3 linked regions of the Homo sapiens genome follow. The protein of the gene in region 1 purifies or fractionates together with the protein of each later gene. This does not show direct contact. Each region holds a gene or a part of one and is shown on either strand. Other genes may lie near its edges.

Region 1 (3,971 bases):
CGCGCCACCACGCCCGGCTAATTTTTGTATTTTTAGTAGATATGAGGTTTCACCATGTTAGCCAGACTGGTCTCGAACTTCTGACCGGGTGATCCGCCCGCCTTGGCCTCCCGAGTAGCTGGGACTACAGGAACATGCCACTACGTCTGCCTAAATTTTGTATTTTTAGTAGAGACGGAGTTTCACCATGTTGGTCAGGCTGGTCTCGAACTCCTGACCTCGTGATCTATCCAGCTCAGCCTCTCAAAGTGCTGGGATTACAGGCATGAGCCACCATACCCAGCCGAGGTCTGAATTTTAGTGCTTGTGTGGATATTGCTGTGGCACATAATGAAATATTTTTGAATTGTTTTCTCTCTTTTTTCACTTTAGCTTTTTGTAATGAGCTTTACCAAATTGTTTTAGGGCGGGCTGTGTGGCTCAGGCGTTATCCTAGCACTTTGGGAGGTCGAGATGGGCGGATCACCAGGTGAAGAGATCGAGACCACCCTGGCCAACATGGTGAAACCCCGTCTTTACTAAAAATACAAAAATTAGCCGGGCGGGGTGGCGCGCGCCTGTCATCCCAGCTACTCAGGAGGCTGAGGCAGGAGAATCCCTTGAACCCGGGAGGCAGAGTTTGCAGTGAGCCAAGATCACGCCACTGCACTCCAGCCTGGTGACAGAGCGAGACTCCATCTCAAAAAAAAAAAAAAAAAAACAACCCAAAAAACAAAAAAAAGTCGTAATTTGGGACTAACTAGTTTTATTAGGTTTCTGCCTACTGTTAATTGCTTCAGATTTTCTAAATTCTTTTGGTCCCCTTTGTGTTTGTGAAGGTGAATGGGCAGTAGTCAGGCGTGTTAGATCAGGCCCCACCAGCCCGGTGGAAGCAACGTTTGCGTGTGGCCGGCCGCCCCTTGAAATCCGGCCTTCGCGCTCCAGCGAAGCCCCCGGGACACGGGACCGAGGGCCCAGCACTCTGGCTCCTCACACATGTGGTCTCCTTCACGTTCCTTTCCTTCTCCTCGCGGTCCCAGCGGATGCGAGGAGGCTTAGAGACGGCGGGCTTCTCTCCCGCCCGCCGCAGGGTCCGCGGGTCCCCGCCCCGCCCGGGGCGCCGCTCCCCCTGGGGCCGCCCGGGCGCCCTCCCGCCGCCGGGGGCGCTGTGGGCTGCAGCGGGCCTGGCTGCAGATGCGGTGGTGGCCGCCGAGCGCCTGGAAGGAGCTGCTGGACAGGCCGAGGGAGCCTCCGCCCGAGACCGCGCAGCCGCCGCCGCCATGGGTAAGGCGAGCGGGCCGAAACCGAACGCTAGGCCCTCAGTCCCGGGCTGAGGGCCGCGGCCAGGCGGGGTGGACTGGGAGCTGGGGGAGACGCCGAGGCCGCCAGTCGGAACTGGGGCCCGAACCCAGGATGGGCGGGGACTGCCTGGGACTCGGGGGCTCCCGGGGTCGTCATGGCAACGCGCCCCCTCCCTTGTTCCGGCCCGTTCCCGCCCGGGTTCTGAGGCATAGTGGCCGAGGGCTCGAGGTGCCACGGCGTCCAGGAGCGAGGACAGGGCCAGGCAGGGTGTCACTCCCGGGTCGGGGAGCAGGCGGGGAGGGGCGATGACTTTTCAGGTTTGGGGGTGGCGGAGGGAAGACGCATCTCAGGTTTTGGCCTGGGTGCCTGACGCCGAGGGCGGGAGACGGGGAATGCTGACGCGCAGGAGCCTGGGTGAGCCCGCCGCGATGGTCCTGGGGGGCCCCCAGGCCTCTGGGCAGCCTTGCTGGGGGGAGGGGGCAGGAAGAGAGGCAGGGAAGGGGCTCTAGGCCCCGGCAAGGTGCGGGCACTGGCCCTGGTACTCCTTGCGCGCCTGCGGCCGGGTTTGGGGGTCGCGTACGGGCCGGAGAAGTCCTGTAGCGCAGCCGGGGCGTGGCCGCGGTGTGAACGCCCCTCGGCGTGGGAACTGCCGGTGCCCAGCACCGATCTGCCTCCCAGCAGCTGCAAAACACCCTTTGTGTGGTTGTCGCATCGCACGTTAGGAATTATGATGGGCTGTGTTAAAAATGAGAGTTGCCACGGATTATGAAACATGAAGTGGTTTCACTCCCGAAAAATAGTGGGAGTCAGACCACGATGCAGATTTGAAGGAATTCGTGTGTGGACATTTTTCCACCAGGCAGTTTGGCCATAGCAGTTGTGGCTGTTTGCATTTTAGGTTGCTTAGGATTCAGTGTCAGGCTTCATGCCTAGCTATCTAGAAATCGGAGCTGGAATACTAGATCATTGGAGACTCTGGGTTTTTTGTTGTTGTTGTTGTTCAGTGAAGGAAAAACGGGCACATTGATTACTTGTAAATTTGTCAGAGATTATGAAATGTTATACTAAGTGCTTCGTTTTTCCACACCTTAGTTTTGTCATCTGTGTTTGTTGAAGGTATTCCCACCAGTCACAACAGTGATGAGATGATGGGGAAGCGTCTGAATTTCTAAGTAAACTGAGAATAAAATTTGCGGGAAGGAGGACAATATTTTTGTGAATTGAAAATATCTTACTTGATGATACTGTGTCTTAAAAATATCAATTAAAAATCAGGCCTTTTAGAATTTGCATCTATTAACTTGGTATTCAGACTGGCGCTGTGGGCATCCTCAACTGTGTGGATGGGTGAGGAACATTAATGTAAAACTGGTCTCTGCTTTTATTTTCTCTTTGAAAATAAAACAGTCATGCAATACAGAACTACAGTCAGAATGAAGAAGCCAGACAGAAAGAGGGTAGACGAAAGAATTGGACGGCTTCTTCTGTGTCCCCTTGTCAGTGTATTTTACCTGTCATGTTTGTTGTGGATGACACTGGAATCCTAGAATTTTAACTACCTTTTATTTTATTGCCAGTTTATTCTGAACATTTTTGCCTTGGAATTCATCCTAAGACCGTACCTGCTATCTACCTTTTGCATGAGGCCCTTAAACCTGTTGTCTCTCACCCCAAATTTATCTCCATAGAAGATCATTTTAAAAAACTCATTCTCTATGAAGAGGTACCAGGAAAGTTAAATACAGGAGAATGGCAGATTTGCAGGATCTTGAGAATAATTCATTAACTTTGGCTGGAGTGGTCATGGAAATTTTCTTTTTTCTTTCTTTCTTTCTTTTTCTTTTTTTTTTTTTTGTGAGACGGAGATTCGCTCTGTCACCAGATTGGAGTGCAGTGGCGCTATCTCAGCTCACTGCAATCTCCGCCTCCTGGGTTCAAGTGACTCTCCTGCTTCAGCCTCCCGAGTAGCTGGGACTACAGCCGCGCACCACCATGCCCAGCTAATTTTTGTATTTTTAGTAGAGACGGGGTTTCACCATGTTGGCCAGGATGGTCTCAATCTCTTGACCTCATGATCCACCCGCCTTGGCCTCCCAAAGTGCTGGGATTACAGGCGTGAGCCACCGCGCCTGGCCGGAAATTTTTTACAGTATATGTGAGAGATGTAAAGAGAAGTTAATCAAGGGTGTGGTTTAGCTGGGGAGAATTTGTCAACCAAGGAACAGCAAACTACTGTTGGTTTTTATAGGGGAAGGGAATGGTTTGTATATTTTTCATTGTCATGTCTTACAAATGATGTTGGATTCCTTTCTTGTGTTTTCAGCTACAAAAGACCCCACAGCTGTAGAGAGAGCAAACTTGTTAAACATGGCTAAACTGAGTATCAAAGGACTCATTGAATCTGCTCTGAGCTTTGGCCGCACTTTGGATTCTGACTATCCCCCCTTGCAGCAATTCTTTGTTGTTATGGAACATTGCCTGAAACACGGTCTTAAAGGTATCATGAGATTTTAAAAAATTAATTCATTTTAGAATTTCCGTTTTTCAAGTGCCCTTGAGAATGGGTTATTTTTTGAGGCCATAATTACGTTACTGTGCACTAAAAAATATTGAGTGGATTGATTTTGGGAGAAAATATCTTATGACTATGTTTTCTAATAATGGAATAATAAATGGTCTTCAGAAAATGC
Region 2 (3,632 bases), on another chromosome or scaffold:
TTTCACGAGTGGGGAAAGTGAGGTCAGAGATGCGGTGCGACTCGCCCAAGCCTACCAGCGGAGCATGAGGGTCACACGGCGTCTCCAGTGTCACAGCTCTGGGGCCTCTGCCCGCACCTCCCGACTCCACCTGATGCAGACAGGCCTCCCTACCAGCCAAGGAGCACGCGGGCTCGGTCCACTCGGGGGGCCCTGAGCATGGTCTGTGCTGGGGTCTCCATGGCACCATGCTGGGCAAAGGCACTGAAGCCAGGGAAGGGGAGAGCCACGAGAGTGCCGTGGCACCCAGGAGGGCCTGCAGGCTCAGGGACCTGGATCTCTGCACCCAAAGGGAACTCGGGCTGAGGAGGCCCTGGAGGAGCCCGGCCACACCTCGGCTGCAGTCCCCCCTTCTCCAAGGGTCTCGTGCAAATCTGAGCCAAAAGCGATGTCCATGCTGTAGACGTGAGACCAAATCCACTCCCAGTCTCTCGTCTTTGCTCAAAAGATGCAGAGAATAATCCATCCACAAAAACCAATTCTGGGCAGCAGTTCCTGGAACATACTTTGACTAAACCATCTTCCCTTGGTCTTTCTGCCATGATGATATTTTTTTAAAAGTATCCTTTAACCTCCTTTAATCCTTTCCATTGTATTATGTTCACCTAAGCTTGTTTAAATCCCTTTTTCTATTTTCAACTGGAGGCCAGAGCATGAATGCCGCAGTCCTCCGAAGAGGCAGTTAGGGCACAGCTGCCTTCCCCGCGCTCCTCCTCCCTCCAAGAGTCTTCTGGATAATCCAGGGGTGACGGGTGGCTCCAGGCATGAGCGGCTCCCTGACTGCTGCTCCCTCATACTGCCTTCCCTCTCACAGCTTAGGTTTCCCAAGCAGCAGCCCCTCCAGGCAGCGGACACGCCCTACCCTGCCCCCAGTCCTCCTGGGCTTGAGCCCACTTGTGGGGAGTAAAGACCCCTCATCTTCATCCTACTGTCTGGACAGGACTCCCCTCTTCATCCAGGAAAGAAGGCGGGTCTCTAAGACCACAGAGACAAAAGCCCACAGGATGGGGCAGAGCCATTCACGCGGGGCCTCCTCTCCCCGCAGCCACCCAGGGACATTCTCCTCTTGGTTAGCACAGCCTCCTGCCCCTGCTGCCTGTGTTTAACCTGCAGAGTCCGAGGCCAGCGCTCACAGTCTTCCCAGGACACCAGCGCCGCCTGCCTTCTTTCCGTCCCCCTTCCTCTCTTATCACTACGAAGTATGCAGCCTCCCTCACAGGGGCTCTGCCATCAGCTGGGCCTCCCCATGGGGGCTCCGCCATCAGCTCGGCCTCCCTCGCGGGGGCTCTGCCATCAGCTCCTCAACTTTCCTCATCTTGCTCTCAATGCCGTTGCTCTCTCCGCCTCTGGCGGATGAAGGGACAGAAGCGAGGTTGGCACAGATGCCGGCGTTGGCTGCTGCCTGGAGCTGAGGGCGCCCATGACCCCGGCCCTGCTCTCCTGATGCCCCTTTCCCACACCCAGGCGGTGTCTACACTTGGCACCCACGTGGTCCCTCTCCAGCACCCCTCCTGAGGAAGGCAGACCCTCTCCTTGCCACCTGCCTGTGGGCCCTCACCCCCTCACCTTCCCCACCAGGACCCGCCAGATTGAGCCAGCTCGAGGCACCAGAGCAGAATGAGTCCAGAAGGAAGTGGCACCTGGGGCTAGCATGAGCCAGAGGAGCTGGCCCCACCTTGGCCATCGTGGAGCTGCTCTTCTCCAGGGGAGGAGGCCGGTGGGTCTCCCCGGCCCCTACCATCTCACGCAGCCTCTGGACTCGCTGTGCGGTCATGCAACCTCTCTGTCCCTGCCGGGCTGCTCAGCCTCTCTGGACACATGCTGTGCTCCAGACGGGATGGCAGGGAGGCAGGGCAGGGACCGCCCGGTGCGTCCTGTGACACCAGGCAACGTTGGTCCCCACTCCCACGCACACCAAGGCCTCTTTCAGGTCAGCACAGAGTAGCTGGGGAGCAGGCGTGGTTCTTTTCCCTGGTGATCTTCACAATACAGTGCTGCAGACAGCCGGGGCTCAGCACACGGGGCCTTGAGAGTCCCTGGATCCTCCACTGTGCTCAGGGGAAACACCTCTCATCTATGAGCCTCCACCGTGCTCAGGGGAAACAACCTCTCGTTCTTGAGCCTCCACCGTGCTCAGGGGAAACACGTCTCATCTGTGAGTCTCCACCGTGCTCAGGGGAAACACCTCTCGTTCTTGCACCTCCACCATCCTCAGTGGAAACACCTCTCATCCTTGCGCCTCCACCGTGCTCAGGGGAAATACCTCTCGCCTGTGAGCCTCCACCATGCTCAGGGGAAACACCTCTCGTCCTTGAGCCTCCACCATGCTCAGGGGAAACACCTCTCGTTCTTGAGCCTCCACCGTGCTCAGGGGAAACACCTCTCGTCTATGAGCCTCCACCGTGCTCAGGGGAAACACGTCTCATCTGTGAGCCTCCACCGTGCTCAGGGGAAACACCTCTCGTTCTTGCACCTCCACCATCCTCAGTGGAAACACCTCTCATCCTTGCGCCTCCACCGTGCTCAGGGGAAAGACCTCTCGCCTGTGAGCCTCCACCATGCTCAGTGGAAACACCTCTCATCTGTAAGCCTCCACCGTGCTCAGGGAAACATCTCTCTTCCTTGCATCTCCACCGTGCTCAGGGGAAACACCTCTCGTCTATGAGCCTCCACCGTGCTCAGGGAAACACCTCTCATCTGTGAGCCTCGACCATGCTCAGGGGAAACACCTCTCGCCCATCTGCGCTGGGTGCCCACTGCCCTTCCGTGGCCCCACCCTTGTGCTGGATGAGCCTCAGCCTGGGTGGAGAGAAGGCAGCCCAGCCCAGGACAGCGTGGTCAGGAGGCCTCAGCCAGCGTGGCCCCGCAAGTGCCCCCGGGGGGCCTCCAGGGACTTACTCTATGCGGATGAGCTTGTCCAGGGACGGCTGCACCACAGCCCCAGAGCCAGACAGGAGGCCGGGGCACGCAGGCACCAAGCGCCACCACATCAGGACAGGGACGCGGCCCCAAGAGGACCCTCCACCCTTTCAACACGATGACCCCTGCCCACAGACCCCTCCCTTCCAAATTCCCCCAAGCCTGGCCCGTGCCGGCCATCCCCTCTGTGCCCCTCACCAATAATTCCGGCTTCCCACGCAGTTGTTGATCCATTTGCAGTGGTGGTCGAAGCCGGACACACACTTATTGCAGGAAATGCAGTGTTTGGTTTTCTTGTTCCTGGAGGGATGAATCGGGGAACGCCTGTCAGGCCCCAAGTGCGCAGGTTGGGGCAGGGCCAGAGGTCCATCACTGGAAGCCAGGTGCCTCGGAGGAACCAGCCCTGTGCGGCCTGGGGAGAGGGCGTCCAGCAGGGAATGGGAGGCTGGGGGAGGGTGTTGAGGCCTGTGGGGAGGAGGAGAAGCAGGGCAGCTGTGGGCAGAGGTAGCCACAGAGCAGGAGGAGCTGTGTCTTTGGCCGCCCTGAGCATAGACCCCCCGCCAGCCGTCCTACACCAGCCTCACTCTGGGCCATGGCCCTGGAGGAGGCCGCGCCTGCCCCATGGTTCCAGGAGTTGAGGCCGGGGGCTTGGATCCCACCTGTGCCTACAGGGC
Region 3 (3,632 bases), on another chromosome or scaffold:
AGGAGAGACGCTTTATCCATGAGCTGGTGATGAAAAAGTGTCTGTCAAAGGGACACTACTTTTATTTTGAGAATGTAAAGTGGACAGAGCTGGAAACAGGGGTGCCCTGGAATTGTTCTTTTGTTTGTTTGTTTTATAGATATGGGGTCTTGCCTTGTTGCCCAGGCTGGAGGGCAGTAGTGCAAACGTAACTCACTGCAGCCTCCAACGCCTGGCCTCAAGCAATCCTCCTGCCTCAGCCTCCTGAGTAGTTGGGACTACAGGTGAGAGTACAACCACGCCCAGCTAATATTTTTATTTTTTGTAGATACAGAGTTTTGCTATGTTTCCCAGGCTGGTCTCAAACTCCTGGCCTCAAGCAATCCTCCTGCCTCAGCCTCCTGAGTAGCTGGGACTACAGGTGACAGTACCTCCGTGCCCAGCTAACATTTTTATTTTTTATAGATACACAGTTTTGCTACATTTCCCAGGCTGGTCTCAAACTCCTGGCCTCAAGCAATCCTCCTGAGTACCTGGGACTGCAGGTGCATGCCACCCTGCCCAGCTAATATTTTTATTTTCTGTAGACATGGGGTTTGGCTATGTTGCCCAGGCTGGTCTCAAACTCCTGGCCTCAAGCAATCCTCCTGCCTCGGCCTCCCAAAGCATTGGGATTACAGGTGTGAGCAACACACCTGGGCTGGAATTTGTTGCTTTAACTCTCCACGTAGGCAGCAGTGCCTCGCACACATTTAAACACCACGTGCTGTTGAAAGTCCTACGGTGGCGGCCTCACCCGGCCACCCTCGTGTCTGTACCTGTGTGGTCTGGGGATCCAGCAAGCAGCCTCTTGGCAGCCAGATCTGTTGCCATTTCGAGTCTGTGCCCTGTGGCCACCGGACAGCCCCCGGGGAAGACAGACAGCCAGGACTGCTGAGGAACGCGCATGACTAATCAAGAAATTACCTCTAACTGATGCCAGCTGCCCTGACACAGGAGGCACAGGCTTGCGGTTTGGGCCCCGCCGGGGCTCAGCGGGCAGGATGGAAATTTTAGAAAATCAGCACAACGGTTGTTCTTGGCGGTGTCTGGCCTGCAGAGGTGGCTGTCCAGAAATTTCTGGGCACTGAATTGTCTGAAGCAACGGACAGACCACAGGTGGGCGCTCAGGGGCTGTAGGTGGGACCCTCCTCTCCTCTCTCCTCTCTCCTCTCTCCCCTCTCCCCTCTCCCCTCTCCCCTCTCCCTCTCCCCTCTCCCCTCCCCTTCCCTCTCCCCTCACCCCTCCCCTTCCCTCTCCCCTCACCCCTCCCCTTCCCTCTCCCCTCTCCCCTCCCCTTCCCTCTCCCCTCTCCCCTCCCCTTCCCTCTCCTTCCCTCTCCCCTCTCCCCTCCCCTTCCCTCTCTCCTCTCCCCTCTCCCCTCTCCCCTCTCCCCTCTCCCCTCTCCCCTCTCCTTCCCTCTCCCCTCTCCCCTCCCCTTCCCTCTCCCCTCTCCCCTCCCCTTCCTTCTCCTTCCCTCTCCCCTCTCCTTCCCTCTCCCCTTCCCTCTCTCCTCTCCTTCCCTCTCTCCTCTCCTTCCCTCTCTCCTCTCCTTCCCTCTCTCCTCTCCTTCCCTCTCTCCTCTCCTTTCCTCTCCCCTCTCCCCTCTTTTCTTTTCGCAGTCTGTCATCCAGGCTGGAATGCAATGGCGTGATCTCGGCTCACTGCAACCTCTGTCTCCCTGCTTCAAGCGATTCTCCTGCCTCAGCCTCCTGAGTAGCTGGGATTACATGCATGCACCACCACGCCTGGCTGATTTTTTACTTTTTGTAGCCCCAAAAAGAGTTTCACCATGTTAACCAGGCTGGTCTTGAATTCCTGACCTCAGGTGAGCCACCAGCCCCGGCCTCCTAAAGTGCTGGGATGACAGTCGTGAGCCACTGCACCTGGCCAGGTTGGACCCTTTTTCTTATGCTTTGCAGGTAAATGCACACCTGTCTGGCAGCAATGCATCCAGCAATGTTTCTCTCCTCTTGAGGGTCTGTGTGTATCTCCTCCAGCCCTCTCACTTATTTCTTCTTAAAACAGCTTTGCCAGCCGGGCACGGTGGCTCACACCTGTAATCCCAGCACTTTGGAAGGCCGAGGTGGGCAGATCACGAGGTCAGGAGATCAAGACCATCCTGGCTAACACGGTGAAACCCCATCTCTACTAAAAAAACAAAAAAACAAAAAAATTAGCCGGGCGTGGTGGCATGGTGGCGAGTCCCAGCTACTCGGGAGGCTGAGGCAGGAGAATGGCCTGAACCCGGGAGGCGGAGCTTGCAGTGAGCCGAGATCGCACCACTGTACTCCATCCAGCCTGGGCAACAGAGCGAGACTCTGTCTCAAAACAAAACAAAACCAACAAACAAAAAAACAGCTTTACCAAGACGTGAGTTACGTACCATAAGCTTTCACTCATTCATACAGTTCAATGGTTTTTAATATATTCACAGATGTGCAAACAACACCATAATGCAATTCCAGAACCATTTTTATCCCTAAACAAAACTCAGGACCTGGCCGGGCATCATGGCTCACACCTGTAATTCCAGCACTTTGGGAGGCCGAGGCAGGTGGATCACCTGAGGTCAGGAGTTCGAGACCAGCCTGGCCAACATGGTGAAATCCTGTTGTTACTAAAATTAAACAAACAAACAAACAAAAACAAATGGGCCAGGCGCGGTGACTCACGTCTGTAATCCCATCACTTTGGGAGGCCGAGGCAGGTGGATCACCTGAGGTCAGGAGTTCAAGACCAGCCTTCCCAACATGGTGAAACCCTGTCTCTACTAAAAATACAAAAAAAATTAACCGGGTGTTGTGGCACATGCCTGTAATCCCAGCTACTCCAGAGGCTAAGGCAGGAGAATCGCTTGAACCTGGGTAGGGGGCAGAGGTTGCAGTGAGCCGAGATCACACCATTGCACTCCAGCCTGGGCAACAAAAGCAAAACTCCATCTCAAAACAAAACAAAAACCCTTCAGAACCCCACAACTGCTAATCCTGTTCGTTCCTGTCCCCAGCCCCTGTGAACCTCAAATCTGCTTCCTGTCTCTGTGGATCTGCCTATTCTAGATATTTTATAAGAATAAAATTCTACAATATGTGGTCTTTTGTGTCTAGCTTCTGTCACTGAGCCAGGGGTCTTCAAAGTTCATCCACGCTGCAGCCTGGGTCAGAGCTTGAGTCCTTTCAGTGGGTGCATAATAGTCTACTGTGTGGATAGACCACATTCTGTTTATTCATTCTCCTGTGGATGGACATTTTTGTTCTTTCTGATTTTTTTTTTTTTTTTTGAGATGGAGTCTTGCTCTGTTGCCCAGGCTGGAGTGTAGTGGTGCGATCTTGGCTCAGTGCAACCTCCGCCTCCTGGGTTCAAGCAATTCTCCTGCCTCAGCCTCCCAAGTAGCTGGGGCTACAGGAACCTGCCACCACGCCTGGCTAATTTTTTTGTAATTTTTTTTTTGAGAGGGAGTTTCGCTCTTTTTGCCCAGGCTGGAGTGCAATGGTGTGATCTCGGCTCTCGGCAACCTCCGCTTCCCCGGTTCAAGCAATTTTCCTGCCTCAGCCTCTGGAGTAGCTGGGACTACAGGCATGCATCACCGCACCCAGCTAATTTTTGTATTTTTA

The links. The genes of interacting proteins can lie anywhere in the genome.
Region 2: the proteins of RUFY2 (region 1) and ZDHHC11 purify together in Homo sapiens (co-immunoprecipitation; one large-scale study listed by IntAct). This does not show direct contact.
Region 3: the proteins of RUFY2 (region 1) and P2RY8 purify together in Homo sapiens (co-immunoprecipitation; one large-scale study listed by IntAct). This does not show direct contact.

Annotation. Positions count from the first base shown.
Region 1 is NC_000010.11:68,404,478-68,408,448, reverse strand, and holds the start of RUFY2 (RUN and FYVE domain-containing protein 2), read left to right. Parts: upstream 1-1,171; 5' UTR 1,172-1,259; coding exon 1,260-1,263; exon of another isoform or gene 1,264-1,586; coding exon of another isoform or gene 1,587-1,695; exon of another isoform or gene 1,696-2,624; coding exon of another isoform or gene 2,625-2,628; intron 2,629-2,983; exon of another isoform or gene 2,984-3,004; intron 3,005-3,604; coding exon 3,605-3,778; intron 3,779-3,971.
Region 2 is NC_000005.10:844,358-847,989, forward strand, and holds part of ZDHHC11 (palmitoyltransferase ZDHHC11), read right to left. Parts: intron 3,424-3,632; coding exon of another isoform or gene 3,259-3,423; coding exon 3,157-3,258; intron 1-3,156. UniProt on the Homo sapiens protein: Endoplasmic reticulum-localized palmitoyltransferase that could catalyze the addition of palmitate onto various protein substrates and be involved in a variety of cellular processes.
Region 3 is NC_000023.11:1,467,557-1,471,188, forward strand, and holds part of P2RY8 (S-geranylgeranyl-glutathione receptor P2RY8), read right to left. Parts: intron 1,115-3,632; exon of another isoform or gene 946-1,114; intron 1-945. UniProt on the Homo sapiens protein: G protein-coupled receptor for S-geranylgeranyl-glutathione (GGG), an endogenous metabolite present in lymphoid tissues.